4 linked regions of the Homo sapiens genome follow. The main gene of each other region encodes a partner of the protein of the gene in region 3 in a complex. Each region holds a gene or a part of one and is shown on either strand. Other genes may lie near its edges. The genes, in order: FBXL5, FBXW7, SKP1 and FBXW11.

Region 1 (7,050 bases), on a different chromosome or scaffold from region 3:
CTAACAATGACTTGGGTTTCCATCTGAATCTACCACTAGCTGCTTATGTAACCTTGGCCTAGCTAATCTAGGCCTCTAAGTCCCCAGCTATAAAACAGAAATACCTTGTCTTTACATAACTCAAAGCACTGTTGTCTGGATAACAAAGGTGAAAAACCTTTCCATAAAACTTTTTACAGATGTAAAAAGAAATCCATGGGCAAAGTATTAAATCGGGTATTGTACAGCAATATTTAAAATGGTCTAAGACATACATCTGTCAGCTTTTGAAAATTTATTTTCTCATCCTATTCACCTTTATACCTAAAAAATAAGTAGACTAACATAACTTTGGAATACATTATACTAACTGGCTTAAGCATATAAGTGGTTTACTTGATGCTAGTAAATAAATGGATGCTTCTAAAATACATTCTACTTGAGAAGTTCAATATTGAAAATAGTAACTGACTTCTTGATAATAACTGGGCATTCAGAGCCCAAATTTGTACAGTGAAATAACTATTTTGTACCTTTTTAGTCTGAGCATAAAAACTAGTTCTCATTTTATATAGTTTTATTGTAAACTGTTTGGTTGGATATCCTTGGTCTATACAACCAAAGGATGGCAAAACGTGAGATGATAAATGGATAAAAACAAACAAGGTACTCTTCCTTTAATTCCTTTAAGATTACTGAACCATTACAAAATACTTATTTTCCACTCTAGCTCCCAAAGGACATCCTAAGAGAGATTTCCATTGGCTATCAGTATCAAGAAGAAATCCAGATGTAAAATTCCTATGCATTTTTTTTTCCCTAAATCGCCTCAGTTTCAGTTCAGAAAATTGGACTTTTAATCTTCGTGATAAACGTATACAACAATCTCATTAACTATATCTAATTAATTCAGAATTAGTAATAATTTTGACTTACACCATGTCAAATTGAAAATGCTTTATTAAACTAGTTATGCAAGTGGGAACATTACTGAAAAGACTCTTGGCTCAGATATCTTGTAAAAAAGCAACTGCATTTTCAAAATTTGTTCAAATACTCTCAACCACCAGGAAGAGACAGAAAAAGAGCGACTAACTTCTTGAAAATTTTAAAATAAGGCTGCTTAGCCTTAGTCTGCAAGTAAATTAAATTGTGATTCTTTATTTTGGGAGGTCACAATCATCTGGAAATCGATGAAAGCTACAAACACCCTAGGAAAATGGACACACGCACAAAATTTTCCATATAATTTCAGGTGATCCTAGGCTACCTCTCCACAGTCTAAAGTGGAGAGAAAACCTTGGATTCTGTTAGTCTTCACTTCCACTTTCGATTTTTGAGACCATTTTTTTTTTCTTTCCTGCTATTAAAGAATGGTGTCTGAATGAACGATATTCAAAAGCCAGAGAGGATAAAAACACTATAATACTGCTAAGTAAAAAATTCAGGGATATACCCTCTTGCTTAATGGCTTAACCATTCCTCATGCTTCTCCTAGATGAGTGGTTCTCACCCTCAGCTGCATACTGCACTCAAATGGAGAGCTTTAATCATTTATACCTGATGTCTGGGTGAAATCCTAATTTTAGTGACCTAGACATCAGGACTTCTAATAGTTTTTAGTTTAAGGCTAATAAGCAACCAAGGTTGCAAACCATTGTCCTAGACAGTCCTGGTGTTTCCAACTCATGTGAACTGGGTGTTTCTAAATTTTCAGAATGGAGGGAGGGAGAAGATGGAGTGCTAAGATTTGAAATTCAACGTCACTGCTTTAAATTGCTGGTCTTGAGTGTGGCCTAACAGTGAATACCCTGGGCATCCTCCAATCGCCTGGCTGAGCTATGAAACACCCCTCTTTTCTGTAGACAATGGTTCTGCATAATGCTATGCAATTTCTGAGAATTCCTAAAAGTTGATTTCTATGCTTAAACAGTAGTCATTTGAATGCTTTATTTAGTTGGATCATTTCCACAAGAAACGGGACTGCCTGAGGTTTGCAGATATCCATGACTTTCCCCAACATAAACTGACAAATACGTGGAATGTTAATATTGTTTTAAAATCACTAGCAAAGGGCCCTGAACCATCTCCACAAAAGTGCCTCTTCAGCTTATGCTGCACCAATTATGGGCCCAAAATGGTTCTCACAGTTAAACCAACTTTTCCTGAGGCCCCCTTTATTCGAGCTCATATAAAGAAATCCAAGAGAGAATTGCTGTCTTATAACAAAATCTACATCCAGTAAGTGTTCAGGGCAATAAAAGTTGCAAGGAAAACGATAACGACACATGAAGAGTGAAGGTTCTTCAGTTCTAAACTTGGCTTTTCTCCCAAATCAAACCAGTGAAGAAAGCCGGGGGTAAAAGGAACCGGGTAGCTGGGAGACGCTGCAGTTCCAGCCAGGAAGCCAGCGAGAGGTGCAGAGGATGGGTGGGTGTCTGCACGGAGAGCCCCGAACAGGCCCGGGGGAGTGACGGGGGACGGGAACAACTACTCGGTGCAGATGGGAGTCCACCGCAGGTGGCCGGCCGGGGCACCCAGGGCTTCGAGGAGGTAGGGCCGCTCTCCTTAGAGGCAGCAGCGGGAGTCCCAGCGCGGCGGTGGGGCCGGCCCGAGGGCGGCCAGTGACGCCGGTAGCGCCCCTCCTCAGCCGCCAGGCCCTCGGCAGGGGACGCCGCCCGCCCCGAGAGCACGTCCGAGGCGGCGGCCAGGCCGGCTCTGCGAAGGCCTCGCAGCGGGCGGGCAGGCTGCGGGAGCGGGCGGCGCTGACAGCTGCGCAGGCGGCTACTCGCGCGGCGACGGCACGGGGCTGCGGGCGCGGCGCAGGCCAGGCCGCCCCAAGAACCCAGCCCGCTCCCCATCGCCGCCCGCACCGCCCACAGCGGGAGGCTCAGCGCTCCGTTACCTTGTCGCAGTAGAGCCCCACCAGCTGCTTCATCCGCCAGTGTGGGGCGGTGAAGACGTCCACTTCTTCAGGAAAGGGCGCCATCGCCACTGCCTCAGCCTCCGCCTCAGCAGCCGCGGCCGCCGCCTCTCCATAGACACCCTCGCCGCGGGGCAGAGGCGGCGCGCCCCCTTGCGCATGCGCCCGCCCCGTCGGCGCGCGCGCCCGGTCGGCTTGGCCGGCGGGGACGCGGGGGCGCGCAGGCCGCCGCCATGCGATCCCTGCGGCCCACGTGACCGGGCGCGCGCAGAGGCTCGCGGCTTCTGCCTCCCGCCCCCACTCTTTTCGTTTTTTGTCGTCTTCATAAGCCGCAGAAGGAACCCAAACCTTTTCCCTGTTTCTTTCACTACATGAAAGCACAGTAGCTGAGGGTAGGGGAAAGTCGTTGCAGTGGCGCTCTCGGCGCTTCTCCCGTTGCTGCCCTGCCCACCACGGCCTTGAGGAGAGGCAGCCAAGCACAATGGCCGCGGTCAGGGCCGCGAGCTCTGCTTGTGCCCACGCCCCGACGCCTGCTTGGCCTGGGTGACCAATGCTTCTGGCCAGGACCTCCGGAGCTGCCCTTCGCCTCCCTGCGATTGGCCCGTGCCAGATTTTTCCTGGGGCCGAGCGCAGACCACCCCGGCCGCCACTCAAAGGCCGGGCCTGGCTCCCACCCAGCGGTTGGTGAACCAGAGCTGCGGGCTCTGAGAGCTTCGGTCCCGGGCGGCAGCCCACAGCGGGCGCGGGGCCTGGGTGCGAGGGGCGGGGCAGAGACCGCGAGAGAGAGTTCTCGTGAAATTCGGGAGACTCAACGTGGGGGAAAAACAGTATCTGGGGATCCAGGTGCGGAAATGCACCTCAAGTGCAGGAACGCGGGTCAGGGATAGGCCCGACGGGCCTTGGGGGTGGGGAGAAGGGTGAATAATGGAAGGTTGGTGCGGGAAAGAACCTTGGTACAAATCCCGCCATTTTAAGCGGAGGTTCGGAGAGAAAACAAGGTCACTAACCCAGGAAAATGTCTGCCTCTTTCCCATAAATCGCCTGGCCCTGGCCACAGACCTCCTGGAGACTCTGTTCTCTGCTCACGCCGGTCAGTCTTAGATTGGTTGGCTGGAGTACTGCTGGACAGATAGAGAAATAGGAGAAAACAGGGAAGCCTGAGAACCTTGGGAGGAATTGTTATTTGCTTAATGGCCAGAACCTCCAGGAGGGCAAGAACCAGATATGCTGTGTTCACCCTTGTTCTCTATTATCTATCACAGTTGCAAGACAACATGGGGATCAGTAAATAGTCAACAAATAATGGAGTAGAAGAAGGTGAGAAAGAACTTTGCAGTGGAATGCACCCTATTTAGTTCTAATCTTATATTACTATATGCTATTATAGACAGTGTGAACAGTGGTTAAACCACAGACTCTGGAAGTTAAGATTCCTGGTTTTGCCAGACACTAGCTATACAACCGTTAACAAGCTATATGACTTCTTTATGCCTCAGTTTGCTCTGACATGAAATGAAGCTAATAATACCTACCTCAGAATCTTTATGAGGATTTATATATTTGAAGCACTTATAACAGTACCGTCTGTAAGCTAGTAATACTTTTTTAAAGCAACTCTATGAGGTAGTGCTGCAGGAAATTAAGTCTTCAAGACATTCTAGTAGTTGCCTAGGGTCCCACAAATTAGTAAGTCAAAAATCTGTCATATAAATCTGGATCTGACAGTACCCCCAGAGTCATTGCATTAGTTGGGATACAGAGATGGCTTATTCACAGTCTGTCTTAAGAAGCAGGAATAAGGCTTAAGAAATAGAATAATAATAAAATATTTGATAAAGATTAATTTCTCTCTTCCTCCTTCTCCCTTTCACCCCGTTTCTCGTTCTTTTGCCAGGACTTTGCCTCTATATTTTTTAATAACCTCCAGAGAGCATTTTCTTATTTACCCTCTATTTCTTTACCTCATACTAATCTTTCACTCCAGCTATCTTGGAATGCAGAATCAGACCTCAGGTGAACCAGTTATATAGAGAAATGAGCTCCATGAGAACATGCACTTTGTTTTATCCTCAGCACTTAGAATGATGTCTGTCATAAAGTGAGTATTCAGTAAATATGTTGGAAAAAAGAATGAGGGTAGTTCATAGCACTGTGTAATTTCCTCATTTTTACTAATGTTTAATATGCTATGTTGTCTTGTCCAATCAACTGTTTGTGTCTGTGCTGTTCACTAGTGTATCCATCTGTAGAACCAGACACATTAAAAAGGTATTTGGCAACAACAACAAAAAAAGTCCATCCACACAGTTTCACTGTAACCCAGATTTGAAGCTCTATAATCAGCTGAAAAGTAGTAACAGCCACTTTGGACACTGGCCATTTCAAGGAATTTGTTTTAGATGACAAAATGAAAGAAAGTGATTTTAAAAATAATCCCTGTGAGTAATTTTTCCCATGGAAAGCTATTAACATTAGCTCCATATGCTGAATTATGTAGCAATTAATCACCTGATATATCCAAAATAAATGACTGACTTTACTGAACTTTAGCTCTAAAGAGGTCATTGATCAGTGTAGTATCATTACCATAGGTTACTGCAACTACAGCAGATTTGGGAGGGTTATTAAGACCAAGGTTGTCACTTTACCTCTCTGTGAGACCTTTTTGGATGTATGACAGCAGATAATTCCAACAGACCATCTAGCAATTGACCACCACAAGAAGTCTGAATAAGGCATGTGAACAGAGCAGTGAAAACCCACATTGTAGAATAACTGGTAGAATTGGTCGTTTCTCTTACCTACTCTCATTCTCTCTCTGGCAACCTAAAAATATAACTTATTCTGTTATCAATAGGCCTCTTCTATAGTAGTTTCCAAGCCTAATTTTGAGAACCCTGGAAAGGGTTATTGGCCAGGGAGGGTCAATTCTAAGGCATTTCACTCCGTTTGAGTATGTGACACAGCACTTTCCCTAATAGGGGATTAGTTGTGAAAACAAGCAATGAAAGAATGTTTACGTTTTGACCCAGTTGGAATCATAGTCCTCACTCAGTACCAGAGTTGATCCTTACTGTCCATCAAAATAGTCAATCAACAACTGCTGCAGCAGGCTGATTTAGGAATTGCTGTGGTTTGAATGTTTGTCCTTTCTAAAACTCATGCTGAAACTTAATCCCCAATAAGGCAGTATTAAGAAGTGGGGCCTTTAAGAGGTGATTGGGTCATGAAAGTTCTGCCCTCATGAATGGCTTAATTCATTCATGGATTAAAGGATTCATGGGTTATCATAGGAGTGGGACTGGTGGCTTTACAAGAGGAAGAAAGACCTGTGCCAGCATGCTGAGTCCCTCGCCATGTGATGTCCTGCACTGCCTTGGGACTCTGCAGAGTCGCCACCAGAAAAAAGGCCCTCATCAGATGCAGCCCCTTGACCATAGACTTCTCAGCCCCACACTGTAAGAAATAAATTCTTTTTCTTTATAAATTACCCAGTTTCAGGTATTCTGTTATAAGCAATAGAAAACAGACTAAGACAGGCACATACAGGATGATGTCTTAATCTACTTTCTCGATAGCCACAGAGGGCTTTCTGGTAGAAGTGGCCCTTAAGTTCAGCATTAAATATTAAGAAAAATTATCCATCTGGGACTCCAGAGACTTAATTTTTTCATATTCAGCGTTAAACTGGACACCCAATATGCAGCAGGAGCTTGAGATATAAAGTTGAATAAATCCTGATTACTGTTCTTGGAATTTCCCAGCTTTTAAACTCAGTTTCATACTATCCACCCCATCCTTAATCAGCTGCAGTGATCAATGTTTCTTCCTCATTAATTTCAGTCCCTCCTGTGCTTTAACTAAATAATATATTTAATGACAAAAAATCAGAAGAATGTCATAAATGGAAGGGTACCCAGTAAAATAATTAATTTCTTAGCAGTTTTAAGTACCTGACATTATGTAATAATGTTTATCTACATTCCCTGAACAAGTAGTAGGCATACATAGTAGGCATAAAATATTTCTTGCTGCATGAATGAGAATTTGAAAAGTTTTTACAAACCAAAATACTCCTGTTATTCAGTAATATACATATATGGTTTTTAAGAAAAACTAATCCAAACAAGCTATATTTAAAGTCCTAA
Region 2 (3,093 bases), on a different chromosome or scaffold from region 3:
CAACAAGAACTTTGTAATTACCAGCTCAGATGATGGAACTGTAAAACTATGGGACTTGAAAACGGGTGAATTTATTCGAAACCTAGTCACATTGGAGAGTGGGGGGAGTGGGGGAGTTGTGTGGCGGATCAGAGCCTCAAACACAAAGCTGGTGTGTGCAGTTGGGAGTCGGAATGGGACTGAAGAAACCAAGCTGCTGGTGCTGGACTTTGATGTGGACATGAAGTGAAGAGCAGAAAAGATGAATTTGTCCAATTGTGTAGACGATATACTCCCTGCCCTTCCCCCTGCAAAAAGAAAAAAAGAAAAGAAAAAGAAAAAAATCCCTTGTTCTCAGTGGTGCAGGATGTTGGCTTGGGGCAACAGATTGAAAAGACCTACAGACTAAGAAGGAAAAGAAGAAGAGATGACAAACCATAACTGACAAGAGAGGCGTCTGCTGTCTCATCACATAAAAGGCTTCACTTTTGACTGAGGGCAGCTTTGCAAAATGAGACTTTCTAAATCAAACCAGGTGCAATTATTTCTTTATTTTCTTCTCCAGTGGTCATTGGGCAGTGTTAATGCTGAAACATCATTACAGATTCTGCTAGCCTGTTCTTTTACCACTGACAGCTAGACACCTAGAAAGGAACTGCAATAATATCAAAACAAGTACTGGTTGACTTTCTAATTAGAGAGCATCTGCAACAAAAAGTCATTTTTCTGGAGTGGAAAAGCTTAAAAAAATTACTGTGAATTGTTTTTGTACAGTTATCATGAAAAGCTTTTTTTTTTTTTTTTTTGCCAACCATTGCCAATGTCAATCAATCACAGTATTAGCCTCTGTTAATCTATTTACTGTTGCTTCCATATACATTCTTCAATGCATATGTTGCTCAAAGGTGGCAAGTTGTCCTGGGTTCTGTGAGTCCTGAGATGGATTTAATTCTTGATGCTGGTGCTAGAAGTAGGTCTTCAAATATGGGATTGTTGTCCCAACCCTGTACTGTACTCCCAGTGGCCAAACTTATTTATGCTGCTAAATGAAAGAAAGAAAAAAGCAAATTATTTTTTTTTATTTTTTTTCTGCTGTGACGTTTTAGTCCCAGACTGAATTCCAAATTTGCTCTAGTTTGGTTATGGAAAAAAGACTTTTTGCCACTGAAACTTGAGCCATCTGTGCCTCTAAGAGGCTGAGAATGGAAGAGTTTCAGATAATAAAGAGTGAAGTTTGCCTGCAAGTAAAGAATTGAGAGTGTGTGCAAAGCTTATTTTCTTTTATCTGGGCAAAAATTAAAACACATTCCTTGGAACAGAGCTATTACTTGCCTGTTCTGTGGAGAAACTTTTCTTTTTGAGGGCTGTGGTGAATGGATGAACGTACATCGTAAAACTGACAAAATATTTTAAAAATATATAAAACACAAAATTAAAATAAAGTTGCTGGTCAGTCTTAGTGTTTTACAGTATTTGGGAAAACAACTGTTACAGTTTTATTGCTCTGAGTAACTGACAAAGCAGAAACTATTCAGTTTTTGTAGTAAAGGCGTCACATGCAAACAAACAAAATGAATGAAACAGTCAAATGGTTTGCCTCATTCTCCAAGAGCCACAACTCAAGCTGAACTGTGAAAGTGGTTTAACACTGTATCCTAGGCGATCTTTTTTCCTCCTTCTGTTTATTTTTTTGTTTGTTTTATTTATAGTCTGATTTAAAACAATCAGATTCAAGTTGGTTAATTTTAGTTATGTAACAACCTGACATGATGGAGGAAAACAACCTTTAAAGGGATTGTGTCTATGGTTTGATTCACTTAGAAATTTTATTTTCTTATAACTTAAGTGCAATAAAATGTGTTTTTTCATGTTAGTATGCCTGTTTCTTCCACTGAAGTAATAATCCTTCATTATAAGTATTTAGGATTTGTCTATAATATTTAAATAAGCAAAATCTTGGTTTCTTTGCATCCTGCTGTGTGACATAGAAATCAATACTTCAAGCCTGTTTTATACCGCGAAAGTAAGGATAATGTGCTGCAACTGCAAATTTTATTTCTCTCCTAGACTATGAAGGAGGACACTCCACTGTGCTCATCTCTGTAGATTGCATTGGGGTGTATAAATATGAAATCTGGTTCCCTCAAAGAATCCACAAAACTTTTGTGATAATTACAACTAGAAGCCTTATAAATAACAAATTCATTTTGAAATTTTGACCACATATTAAGTGCTTACCCTCGATACTTTCTGTTCATTCTCTCTTAAGCTCCCACTATCCCTGAGAAGTAGGCACTATTATCTCCCATCTTAAAGACGAGCAAAAATCTGCAGCTGAGACTGGTTAGGCAATTTGTCAAATCATAGAACTAGCGGAATGCCAGAACTCAAACCCATATTTCCAAAGACTAAATACATGCTGCTCTTTAAGAAAGTTTGACAGACTAAAGCAAGGTTTGAGAGGGAAATAAGCCATTTTTCTGGTACTTTCTGACTGTTCTGTAGCCGTTTTGTTCAACAAATCTAAATTTTATAAAATCTAAATTTTATGATGTAAGGGGAAAAAATAAAGTTGTTTTTGAAACTAGTTCTAAATATATTTAGTATCTCAAATAGCAGGAGATATATATATATATATATATATATACACACACATATATATATACACACATCCAGTAATCTCAACTAACCAGGCCGTAGATGAAAATATAAAAGCTACTGAAAATGGACTCCCCTTTTTCTCATAGTCATAAAGTATGTGTTCTTTACTCATAGGGCAAATCCTGGGCCTCATTCTCCCAAAGCTACTAAATCAGAACACCTGGGAGTGTGACCCAAGAACCTGCATTTAAACTAGCTCACCAGGTGAGTTGTGGATACTAAAGTTTCAGAACCATTGCTTTAGATACCATTCCTGTACATTTGGTTATTTGGTTTATTAGTCCACAGCAAATTACAGACACAAAAATAGCAAGGAAAAGTGACAGGGTAAAGGAAAAAAACAAAAAACTACCTGGTTGAATGCAAGGCAAAAATCCTACTAGGCCGTGAAGTGCAGGGTCTTTAGAGTAAACCACGTTACTGCCCAAACCGTGACTACTGTTCACATTGATG
Region 3 (4,560 bases):
GAGCTATGCCTATACTCCCATTCCAAGCTTTGCTCTTAACCCCACAATGATGCAGGCCAGCCTGCTCCCCAGTGCTCATATAAGAATAAATGAGTTGCCAACTGCCGTCCATAAAGGCTGACAAGACAATTCAACCTGAAATAGGTACACATGACCACTAGGCTCCATTTTCCTCTGAGGGCAGAGAGAAAAGAAAACATTCCACAAGTGCATATCCTATTTCAAGGAAAACAAGAGCAAACGAGTCTTTTATAACCTATTAGCACCACAAAATCCTAAAGGAGGATTTTTTAATAGCACCCCTTCCTCCCAAAGACTGCATCTTTTTTTTTAATTATTATTATTATACTTTACGTTTTAGGGTACATGTGCACAATGCGCAGGTTAGTTACATATGTATACATGTGCCGTGCTGGTGCGCTGCACCCAAAGACTGCATCTGTTAAGACGCAAAGTATTTTTCATATTTTCACACAAGCCTTCAAGTTTGATAAATCTATTACCCACTTTTTAAAAAGTTACATACGCTGTTGGTGGACACGACAGCCACCATATCCACTTTATTTTTAGATTATTTGTATACATTTAGGGGGTACAAATGCAGCTGTGTTACATGAATATATTGTGTAGCGGTGAGGTCCGGGCTATTTTTAGATTATTTGTATACATTTAGGGGGTACAAGTGCAGCTGTGTTACATGAACATACTGGGTAGCGGTGAGGTCCGGGCTTTTAGTGTGCCTCTCACCCAAACAGTGTACTGTGCACGTAAGTAGTGTACATTGTACTCAACAGGTAGGATTTCATACCTCATCCCCCTTTCATCTCCCACCTTTTGAAGTCTCCAATGTCTATTATTCCATTCCGTATCCATATACCATGTGTACTCACTGTTTAGCTCCCTACAACCCACTTTTTACATGAGTTTCCACCAAGTACACTGCTGTCTTCCTGAGACCTATCATGAATGTAAAAGGTGTCATGAAGGCACCTCAATAGGTCAGTCAACAAGTAGATGATACATGTCAGGCAAGAAGTATTTCACATGGGACAGCCACTGGGCCACCATCATGCATTGTCATTGTCACTCCACTGAGTTCTATTTTTTGGATTTTGTGTTTAAAGTATAAAGTCATTTTCCAGAACAGCGTCTATTTAAAGTAGGCCACTGGAAGTTGTAACCCCAGACTTGCTTTTGCTTCTGAGAGAGTGCTAGAGGACACTAGCCATTCTCTGGACATCTGTCCCATTTTAAAGAATTCTGTTCTGGCTACTGGCCTAGTTGTTTAAAAAACCTACATTCTAACCAGGGCTTATGCAAGACCAGGTTGCTGCATCTGATTTGGTGTCTCACTTAGAGTACACAGGGTACCTGAACAATGCAGTCTTTGTGTATTGGCGGGGAAGTCTTTGGCAACTCTGTTTAAATCAGATCAGCTTTTTTTTTTTTTAATCTGACTTCATAAAGGAAACTCAGATCCTCCCAAATCACCCTGGTGCATTCCTGCGAGGCCAGAGGGTGACTTGAGATTGCAACCTCAAGTTCAACTGCTAATACCACACCAGTCCCCCTTCACTGCCAGCTGAGAACCAACCCTGTTTCCTGAGACATCATAAGACAAGATACCTTAGCCTCCCTTGAACATTTCCAGACAACTAGCAGACTGGCAACTTGGGTGAAAGACGTTCATCCCTCCCCTGGTACAGCTGCTCCCCATTTTGTTCTCTGTGGATATGGTGAGGGTTCAGCCCAGCAAGCAGACAAAGCCTATGTCTCCCAACGTGAAGGTGTCTACTTTAACAGAACCCCATGGATGGACTCTCTTCTGACATGTAATTATCTTTTGAATGGCTCCTGTGGTCTCCCATTCCTTCTGGCTGTGGACCCCTAACAGCTAGCTCAGAAGCACTGCACCCTAGCTTTGTTCAGTATACATAAGCCTGGCCAGGAAGGCCACAAGTAAAGGGAAGCGGAAGGGTTCTTTATATCCTGTTCCAGAGAGGAAGAAAGGGAATCAGTTCCTGCATCCGTTTCTCAGAAAACAGCACAGAACAGAAGGGGTAAGGGTAACAAGGCCATGTTAAACTACCTCTTAGGCCTATATGTCAAAGTAGAATTTAAGACCCAAATCTAGTTAATTGTATAAAAAGGCTAAGTTGGCTTTTCTTTGAGGTTCTTTGAGAGTCCTTAACTGCGACTCTCAGATCTCTTCAGAGCATTTTTTAAGCTCTTCAGGGCTTTAAGAGTTCACCAAGGGTTTCTGAAACAGCTGCCCACCCAAGCAGACCCTGGTTGTGTCAACTCCCCCAATCCCAACTTATTGTGATAACCTTGTTCCAAATCTCAAATCACCCTATGGGCATCTTTCAAATTCTGACTCCTGAGCTCTTCTCTAATAGTTTGGAGCTACTAACAAACCATTACTGGCAGTGAGCATCTGAAAATACTCAAAACGGCACCGAGTTTGAAAACAGGAAACATAGATGGTGGGGATGTTCACATACACAGTCCCTTAGAATAAAAGCCTAGCTCAGGTCAGGAAGGATTTTCAAGCTCTTAAAGATAGCATGGGATTAGGCATGTTAACTGGAAAGGGAAAACTTATGTCCTGGGGGTGGGAACTATACTATCACAAGCAGTCCTCACAAGTTAGGTCACTATTGGTAAGGGATGTTTCACTTCTGAAGACAAGATAGCAGCTGTGAATTATGCGGGAGATAGTCCAGGCCAATACTTCTTTCATATTCACCAGGGGCTCTGGACCAAGTCTTCCTTTTTCATTCAAGTGTTCTCATTCTTTTATCTGAAGCCTAGTTCTTTCAGGCATGTGCAATGTCAGGAAGCGGGGTGGGGCTTGGGGAGGGAAGAGGAAAAGCCAGGTTCCACTCACCAAAAATAAATAAATAAATAAATAAAAATTTTTACAAAGCCACTCTGGAAACCCTGCTTGAGTACTTGAGGATAGAGTACAGCTTCTCTATTTTCCCACCCCTTTCCGTAAGCTTCCTGGAACAGAAAAATCTGCAAAGCAACTGAAGAAGGCAGTTAGAGGTTGTGAAATGGTACATTCAGGAAAGAAAGGACAAATAAGAATTTTCACCAGATAGGTGGGAGGTATTCAAAGTGAGAGCACTTTAAGGAAATAAGCTGATCCTCAGTGTGCAATAAGAGGCTGCTATATAGCAGGTTGAAAATTTGAAGTTAAGAGATATCAGAAGGTCTGAATATACTTAAATACTTCCAGAAAATTTAAAGTTGACAGATATCAGAAGGTCGCAAGAACTACAGATGTGGAAGCAGACACTGTTATGAGCAACTACATTCCTCCCATAGAATGCTGCTCAATACTGGCACACAGACCAGAGGTAGCCAGCAGTACACAAGACTGCAAGGCAACAAGTACATTATCAATGAATTAGCCATCTATCACTCAAACTATGTCCCGCATTGGAAGTGTGTCAAGCAAGAGCACCTTCGACAACACTTTTCGGCCACCACTAATGATCATCTCCACTGATGCCTCAGCAGAAAGGATAACATTCAGCCAATCCTGCTTAGGTGTCCAAATGGCTCAATCTTGGGCCAAAGGACATGCTCTGAAATATTTCTTACACCATACTTCATCTTGATATGCACAGCCAGTTCTCTTACTCATTCTCTGTGACCACTGGAGGTAGTGATTTTTAACAACAGTAAACAAGAAAAAGTCATCAGGACTCTAACTGTAAAACCCCCAACATTCAAAAGACTGGTTTAGTTGAACAGCCAAAAAATAAATAAATAAAAATTAAAATTAAAAAAATTAGAATTTAGCTCACTCAAAAATTGCCCTGCCTAATGTGGGTCTGATGAATAAATGCTGATAAAATACTACTGAGTGTCAGCAAAGTACTGTGACTAATCCTGCCCTAATTTCTCTTTAGTCTATATTCTCAGGGAAATGTACCAACACCCAACCTTCTGCTGTTAGTTCCTGACTGTGCACTGCTTTTTCCTCACTTTGGCATCTGTCCACCCCCAAACAAATCCAACTTGATTCTTGAAACCAAATTAGTTTCACTTTACAAAACCTTTCGTAGCACCTTTCAGCTCTGTAGCCCCCCATTGGCTCATTAATCTGTTCTGTCCAGAAACTTTTTTTTTTTGAAACGGAGTCTCGCTCTGTCGCCAGGCTGGACTGCAGTCAGTGGCGTGATGTCGGCTCACTGCAACTTCCGCCTCCCGGGTTCAAGCGGTTCTCCTGCCTCAGCCTCCCGAGTTGCTGGGACTACAGGCATGTGCCACCACGCCCAGCTAATTTTTGTATTTTTAGTAGAGATGAGGTTTCACCATGTTGGCCAGGATGGTCTCGATCTCTTGACCTCGTGATCTGCACACCTCAGCCTCTGAAAATGTTGGGATTACAGGCGTGAGCCACCGTGCCCAGCCCAGGAACATTTTTATTAGAGTTATCCACTCCCTCCCAGCAGTATTTATGCCTTCTCTCCTGAACTACACCAAAAGCTCCCAGCTCCCTAGAGGGAAACCATGTCTAATGCTTCCTACCAAGGAGAAGCCAGG
Region 4 (7,044 bases), about 38 Mb from region 3:
AACTATGAGTAATGTACAGAGAAAACTTGAAATGTGCCTTCTCTAGTTCTCTAGAGATGGCTCAAAAATGTAAAACAATGCTTACTTAAAAAAACGGGGCCTTGGATTTTGGAAAATTTATCAGCTTAGAATAAAAAGATGATTTTAGATTAAGGTTTGAATTAACCGGCAGCCTTGCAGAAGCATTTCATGTTTTAGAAAAGTTAGATATTCTTTGCAAAAGACATTATTTTCTCTGCAGAATAGCTGCAGATTATATACAACATGACACATTTACTCCAAAAGCTCAACTTTTTAAAAAAAATTATTAGTTCTACGATTTTAGACCAAAAGAACACTCTAAGGCAACATAAAAAGTTGAGAACAAGAAACAAAGAGCCCATAAAACAGATAAATCATAAAGTTACCTCTATATCCTGGATAATCTTTGGGTATAATGACCTATAAAATGAATTTGGAGGGCCATCTGTGGGTCTGTTTTTAAACAGGTACTGATCCCTGGCAAATAAAAACAAACAGATGTTACATTTTTGCACATAAAAGGGTGAATTTTATCTAAACATGGTGCTGACAAAGATATATCTTTCATGTCTTTTAATTTGCATTGAGTTTTAACAGTTCAAAAGCAGGATTTCTGACAAATTTACATGTTACAGACAAGTTTAGCTCAATTCACAGCTCTCTAACAAAATCCTGATCGTGTTTTCTGAGTACTAATATGTAACAATCTAGCCTTTCATTCCATAGAGTTTAATAAAAAGCGCTAATGTAGCTTTGTGAAAAATCTAACTTAGTACACATCAAACTTCCTCCCGTAAGGAAAATACAGCCCTATATGCACCTCTGTCTGTAGCTCTCTCTCTTTGCTAACTGGGCCATACAGCATACAGCTAGCTATAAAGCTGCATCAGAGTTATGAGTTTTCTCTGAAAAATCCTATCACTGTTATTACTTCCTCAACCAGCAGTAATAACAAACAGCAAAATGGCACTATCTGACTTTCTCATATTTTTGTCATATCTATATTTTGGTAATGGTATCATCAACTAAGCAAAATGTGAAGGAAAAAACATAAATACATAGCTTTGAAACGCCAAATCCCATCAAACTATATAATACAGTTCATAAAGGAAATACACATTTCAGAGGGAGAAATTTTAACAGCTTTAACTTTTTCTTCCAACTTTTGACCACTCATTTTCCCCCCTTTTTAAAAATAGGCCAGCACATTTGCAAGTATAATTGCATTTTTGAGTAATCAAGCTGACTCTATGTCAATAAAATTTTTTCAAGGGAACAAGCAACCCAAGTACTTACCACCCTCTTCTTTCTGAAAGTCCTTTCCATAGGGGATCAGTGCGTACCATTCGTTCAATCAGCTTCTTCCAAAGCATTCCTTCTGAGATCACTCGCTGCCATTCTTTACATACCAGCTCTGCTGCACACAGAGACCTGGCATCCAGGTACGAAAGAATGTTTTCTGCTATGTGATCTAAGCCTTGCTCTACAAAACAGAAAAGGGAATGAAGGAACGGGAAGAGAGATAGAAAGGTACCAGCCATCATTTCCTTAAAGATAAGAGGAATAAAGAAATCCTGAACCAAGTAAAATATTTTAGTCATATCAAAAGTTCTACAGATACTCAAATCCATGAGTACATAAACATATACACTTCTTTTTGGTTCTGATTTTTTACGATAAAACAATTGATAGCAACTCTTCTCTGTGTGTAAAAGCTGACCTTGGACAGTTCTGTTATTTGTCAAATATTAAGATAAGACTTTTCATTTTCTTTTATATAACTCTCACAGCACTCCTATAGGGCAATGACGCCCCAAGTTTGACAGATGAAGCACAGAAAGGTAAAGAACTCAAGATTTTACACTCCCTTGGCTTTACTACTGGAACTCGGATTTCTTGCTTCAAAGTTTGTGTTCATTCCCATCTTACTCACTGTCTCTCATAACAAATCATATCCCCATTAATCCATACCCGGTGTGAATCCCTGGGAGATCAGAAGACAAAAAAGGCAAAACACCGACTCATCTTGAAAAACTTATGAAAAGTTAAATGGCAATCCAAGAATTAAAGTCGATTGTGCTTAAATGTATTTTTGTCAATCTTTTCATCTCCCTTTCGTGAGTATCCATTTTCTGTTCCTAAACAGATGGGACAATCCTCAAAAGCAATAGCCCCATGTCTACAAATCCTAGAATCTTAGAGGTCATTGGCTTCAACCTCCCACGATACAAGGATACTCTCAAAGAAAACCACTTTCAGCCTCTGCCTGACATTCACAATGGGAAGATGATCAACATGGCCACCACTGTTGCCACCTGTAAACTCCCATCCTGTGGCGGTAAGTATGTCTTCTACAGTTGCAAGAAATAAAGCTTCTCCCCAAGCTTATTCTGTGTAGGGACGAGAACACAGAACTTATCATCAGAAAATTCCCATTTCAAGTCCCAGGTTCACCACTTACTAGTTCTATGACATGAAACAAACACTGAAACATCCCTGTGCCTTGAATTTTTGTGCCCTAACATACAAAATGGTAATCACCAGTAACAACTATCCTTTCTTACACTGTCTGTCAGAATCAAATTCAACAGTTTTATGAAAACATTTTATAGACAAGCACTCTACAAGGTTAATATCTGTTCTCTTTTCTCAAAATAATTAGAAGTAGTATAATAGCACTAAACTTGGTTGTTGAAAGGCCAGATGTAGGTAAATTATTAAACTTTCAGAGTCAGTTTCCTCATCTGTATAAGATTACGATAATCTCTACTTGATTCTGAAAATATCAAAATGAGATGATGCATGAAAAATGCTTTACAAACTAAAGTTCCTTCAATTCTAAGAATGACTATTATTATACCATTGGTTATAATTTCCAGGTCCTTCATATACTAAAATTCTCTTACTCTGGACTAGATCAAAGACCCAAGCTATGGTCTAAGAATAAAGACTACACTGGGACCACTGTCCTTTCCTGCATGTCATTTACAGTTAATGTGGTCAAAGGCTGCACTGCCTTCATCTGATAGTCATATCACAGAAGACGCCTAAGATGGCAGTAAGTTAGAATAAAATCCCAGGCCTCTCCCCCAAAAACATCTATTGAAACAATTTCCCCGAATGCTCTATTTGCACAGCTAGTTGGAAAGGTGGGGGGCAGCTTTGTGCGGTTTATATTTATCCTTACTATAATTCACCTTCAAAGCTTTGTCTGACCCATCCATTTCAGTCTCTAGAATTCTGATTTTTGTCACACCCAGAAGAGTGGGTATTCCACACCAGACCTGCATGATGGGCTAAAGTACTAAGGCAAACATGTTAAACCATGTTGGCAAACACGTTAAACGGGTCAGAACCAAGGACAGCACCCATGACACTAGCTATTAGTACCTATTATTATAATATTTCCCTCCAAGCTAGCACTGATGCCGCATCAATATGCCCAGGGCACCCACACTGCGACATCCGGTCTGTAGTCATCTATATGTGCCATTGCCCAGTCCATATCTCTCTATTCTGTCCTCGGAGGTATTTGGAAAAATCAGCAGATGATGATATTACCATCTATTTACATCATTCTTCAGACCTACCTACTAGCCTGGTAACTTTATCCAAAAAGGAAATAAGGTGAGGAGGGTATGGCTGCTTTCATGTTCCCGTGCTGGGGTTTACTACATAAAGTTGTATTGCAATTTTTCACTTACATGTTGACACTAGCTGCTTGGTAACCCTTTTAAACATATCTAGTTCATGTTCATTATAGAAAATTTATAAAGTGTAGATGAGCAAAAATTTTTAAATCCCTAAACCCCATTTCCCAGAGAAGGGAACCACTTTTCACATTCTGTATACATCCTTCTAGGTTTACACAACCATACACAATCTTTTCAGAGGCTGATTAGCCTTTGAAACTCATCTAAGAATTCTGCTAAAGCACAACATCAAATTTAATAGCTAAATCCCCCAAAAACACCTTCTCCAGTTCTTAAAACCAGGAAGTCTGCTCATCAATCATCTCTGGTGCTATCATGCAAGACTACCATGTGCAACTGTACAAGCTGTACAGGGCACAATTGTACCCAATAGTTCTGCATACTGATTTTCAATTGCTTCACAATGTTCTACAATTTGAAAAATCACAACCACAGGTTTTGCCACTATCCAGGCATACAATGTATTTAGGCCTACTTGTCTATAGGAGCTATGTGATTGCTAAATATCTTCACATCTTTCTCAAACACAACTTTGCTAACCTTTGTTTTAAAGCCATTATTCTTGGGTTGGGGGGATGGTGGGATTAGGTTAATGGGAGTGAAAATATGTTGTTTCTTTCTATTATCACTATACTATCTATTCTAAGCACACTATCCCTTCATCCTTTATAATCTGGCTCCAAATAGTTAATTATTTTGTTTTCAACTCTTTCAATTTACTTCAACATTTTGGACAATTTAACATTATTTGGAGTTTGGTCTTCTTGGTACCATTCTCAAAGGTTTCACAGGGACTCACTCTATCACCCAAGTTGGAGTACAGTGGCACAATCATGGCTCACTGCCACCTCAAACTCCTGGGTTCAAGCAATCCTCCCACCTCAACCTCCCAAGTAACTAGGACTACAGGCACATGCCTCCACACCCAGCTAATTTTTTTTTATCATTTGTAGAGATGAGGTCTCACTATATTGCCCGGGGTGGTCTCCAACTCCTGGGCTCAAGCAATCCTCCTGCCTTGGTCTTGAAAGTGCTGGGATTACAGGCGTGAGCCACTGCGCCTGGCTGCCTTTCTTCCATCTTCTATGTTTACTTAAAATCAGGGAAATCCAAGGATAATCACGTGGGGTTCTGCTTGTGCCTCTCCATCACTAGGATTGACAAATTATTCATCAGAATTTCAAACTGCAGAATCCGTCAGCCTTCTTTTATCACATTTTTGTTCAGTCTCTAGCCGTGGACTAACAGACTTAGCTCTTTCAATCTTTCTAACGCTGGGGTACTTATCTATCTTCCTTTTCTGATTTCTACACTTAATATTAGAACATAGCTAATTACAGCATCTCACTCTGTTGCCCAGGCTGGAGTACAGTGACATGATCATGGCTCACTACAGCCTTGACCTTCCAGAATCAAGTGATCCTCCTGCCTCAGCCTCCCTAGTAGCTGAGACTACAAGTATGCACTACCATGCCAGGCTAATTTTTTTTAAAAAAAATTTTAGTAGAGACAGGATCTCACTATGTTGCCCAGGCTGAGAACATAGCCACTTTTAAAGTAATGTAAACTTCACATCATTAACCCAAATCCTCCTAACTGGTTATAAACACATCTCAAACTAATTCCTCTCTAGAACCCTCTGCTCTCTGAAAGGTGAAACAAATGGCAAGACAAGGATGCATTAGGGGCTGCATGGTGGCTCACACCTGTAATCCTAGAACTTTGGGAGGCCAAGATGGGCAGATCGCTTGAGTCCAGGAGTTTGAGACCAGCCTGGACAGCATGGCAAAACTCCATCTCTACTAAATATACAAAAATTAGCCATGGTGGCACACGCCTGTAATCCCAGCTACTTGGCAGGATGAGGCGCGCGAGAACCACTTGAACCTAGGAGGTGGCGGTTGCAGTAAGTGGAGATCATGCCACTGCACTCTAGCCTGGGTTACAGTGCAAGACTCTGTCTTTTTTTAAAAAAAATAAAAAATAAAAAGAATGCATTAGATACTCGCCTTTTCAAACCTCAAAGGCTGCAACATCCCCATCATCTGTGACGGGAAAGCAGCACCCAAACCTTCAACCTATCTGGGTGGTCTATAAGCCTGTGTGGTTGTATCTGACTCAACTCAGGGTTACTGATTTTCAAAACAACAGCAAAAAGAAAAGATCCCCCCAATCTTCTCCTGACCTACAAAATCAGAATCTCTAGACGGTAAGGCCCAGGAATCTGGGTGTGGTTTTTTTGTTGTTGTTGTTGTTTTTGGAAACAGATTCTCACTCTGTCGCCAGTATGGAGTGCAGTGGTGGGATCTCAGCTCACTGCAACCTCCACCTCCTGGGTTCAAGCGATTCTCCTGCCTCAGCCTCCCGAGTAGCTGGGACTACAGGCGCACACCACCATGCCCAGGTAATTTTTGTATTTTTAGTACAGATGGGGTTTCACCATGTTGGCCAGGATGGTCTTGATCTCTTGACCTCATGATCCACCCAACTCGGCCTCCCAAAGTGCTGGGATTACAGGTGTGAGCCACCGTGCCCAGCCAGGAATCTGTATTTTTAAGAAGTGCCACTAGATAATGCTGAAGTATTAGGAACTATTGGTTTATAGCAATGATATCCCTTTTAGTCCTCTTTGATTCCCCCATCAATTGCTCACAACTAGGCTATCATGAGTTTTTACAGAAATAAATCCCTTACTAATACTTATTTCTTCCTCTTTCAAATGCCATCAGTCCAATTAAGCAACATCTCAGTGATATCTATGAGATTTGACCTATTTCCTTTGTCTGATACTTTAAATGCATTTCCTCCTTCTATGAGGCAGCATGTTTTAGTCTTGTGAAAAACACACTGCCTGAAAGTCAGAAAAACTAGGTTGCATCTCAGTTCTGTCAACTGCTAGTTGTGTGACCTTAAGCAGATCAGTTTTCCTTTTAGGATCTCAGTCTTCCATAATATCAGAATGATATTAAATGTCTGAAATAAATTACATCATATAATCTTCACAATAACCTTCTGAGATAGGTACTCTACATACCCTCATTTTACATAGAGGGAACCTCCCAGTCTTGCTGCGAAAGTTTAAAAAACAGCATACGTAAAGAGCTAGGTAAATAAGAAGTTCACTCAAGAAATATCAGTCTTTGTTCTACTCTCCCCCAAATCCTCTCAGCAGATATCAATGGACAAGGCCGATACACAATATTCTTCTTGTTACCTTCTGCAGAAAAAATACTACGCATCTCCTCCAGCAAAAAGCTAACCCCCCCCCCTTTATTTTCTTGGTATAAGTCTCATGGCCCCTTAAATGTTT

Evidence for each region.
Region 1: the proteins of SKP1 (region 3) and FBXL5 are in contact, whole or in part, in a cryo-EM structure (PDB 6VCD), measured with the Homo sapiens proteins. Residues at the interface, in NP_733779.1 of Homo sapiens: Phe101, Ile104, Leu105, Asn108, Leu116, Asp117, Cys120, Lys121, Val123, Ala124, Ile127, Lys128, Gly129, Lys130, Pro132, Ile135, Arg136, Phe139, Ile141, Asp144, Phe145, Glu149, Val153, Arg154, Glu156, Asn157, Gln158, Trp159, Cys160; in NP_036293.1 of Homo sapiens: Ile205, His207, Leu208, Pro209, Val212, Ser215, Ile216, Tyr219, Leu220, Gln223, Glu224, Cys226, Arg227, Cys228, Ser229, Gln230, Val231, Ser232, Met233, Trp235, Ser236, Lys240, Trp245, Arg315, Leu316, Gly319, Leu320, Asn323, Val324, Tyr327.
Region 2: the proteins of SKP1 (region 3) and FBXW7 are in contact, whole or in part, in a crystal structure (PDB 2OVP), measured with the Homo sapiens proteins. Residues at the interface, in NP_733779.1 of Homo sapiens: Gln97, Leu100, Phe101, Ile104, Leu105, Asn108, Leu116, Asp117, Cys120, Lys121, Val123, Ala124, Ile127, Lys128, Gly129, Lys130, Thr131, Pro132, Ile135, Arg136, Phe139, Asn140, Ile141, Lys142, Asn143, Asp144, Phe145, Thr146, Glu149, Gln152; in NP_001336727.1 of Homo sapiens: Pro274, Phe276, Gln277, Arg278, Asp279, Phe280, Ile281, Leu283, Leu284, Pro285, Leu288, Tyr291, Val292, Leu293, Phe295, Leu296, Pro298, Lys299, Asp300, Leu302, Gln303, Ala304, Ala305, Gln306, Thr307, Cys308, Arg309, Tyr310, Trp311, Arg312.
Region 4: the proteins of SKP1 (region 3) and FBXW11 are in contact, whole or in part, in a crystal structure (PDB 6WNX), measured with the Homo sapiens proteins. Residues at the interface, in NP_733779.1 of Homo sapiens: Asp96, Gln97, Gly98, Leu100, Phe101, Glu102, Ile104, Leu105, Asn108, Leu116, Asp117, Cys120, Lys121, Val123, Ala124, Ile127, Lys128, Gly129, Lys130, Pro132, Ile135, Arg136, Lys137, Thr138, Phe139, Asn140, Ile141, Lys142, Asn143, Asp144; in NP_036432.2 of Homo sapiens: Met114, Leu115, Gln116, Arg117, Asp118, Phe119, Ala122, Leu123, Gln126, Leu128, His130, Ile131, Ile135, Tyr138, Leu139, Ala141, Arg142, Ser143, Cys145, Ala146, Ala147, Glu148, Leu149, Val150, Cys151, Lys152, Trp154, Gln155, Trp164, Arg206.

The regions. Positions count from the first base shown.
Region 1 is NC_000004.12:15,652,320-15,659,369, forward strand, and holds the start of FBXL5 (F-box/LRR-repeat protein 5), read right to left. Parts: upstream 3,039-7,050; 5' UTR 2,969-3,038; coding exon 2,885-2,968; intron 1-2,884.
Region 2 is NC_000004.12:152,320,017-152,323,109, reverse strand, and holds the end of FBXW7 (F-box/WD repeat-containing protein 7), read left to right. Parts: coding exon 1-229; 3' UTR 230-2,566; downstream 2,567-3,093. UniProt on the Homo sapiens protein: Substrate recognition component of a SCF (SKP1-CUL1-F-box protein) E3 ubiquitin-protein ligase complex which mediates the ubiquitination and subsequent proteasomal degradation of target proteins.
Region 3 is NC_000005.10:134,148,412-134,152,971, forward strand, and holds the end of SKP1 (S-phase kinase-associated protein 1), read right to left. Parts: 3' UTR 524-4,560; downstream 1-523. UniProt on the Homo sapiens protein: Essential component of the SCF (SKP1-CUL1-F-box protein) ubiquitin ligase complex, which mediates the ubiquitination of proteins involved in cell cycle progression, signal transduction and transcription.
Region 4 is NC_000005.10:171,898,597-171,905,640, forward strand, and holds part of FBXW11 (F-box/WD repeat-containing protein 11), read right to left. Parts: intron 1,505-7,044; coding exon 1,318-1,504; intron 499-1,317; coding exon 408-498; intron 1-407.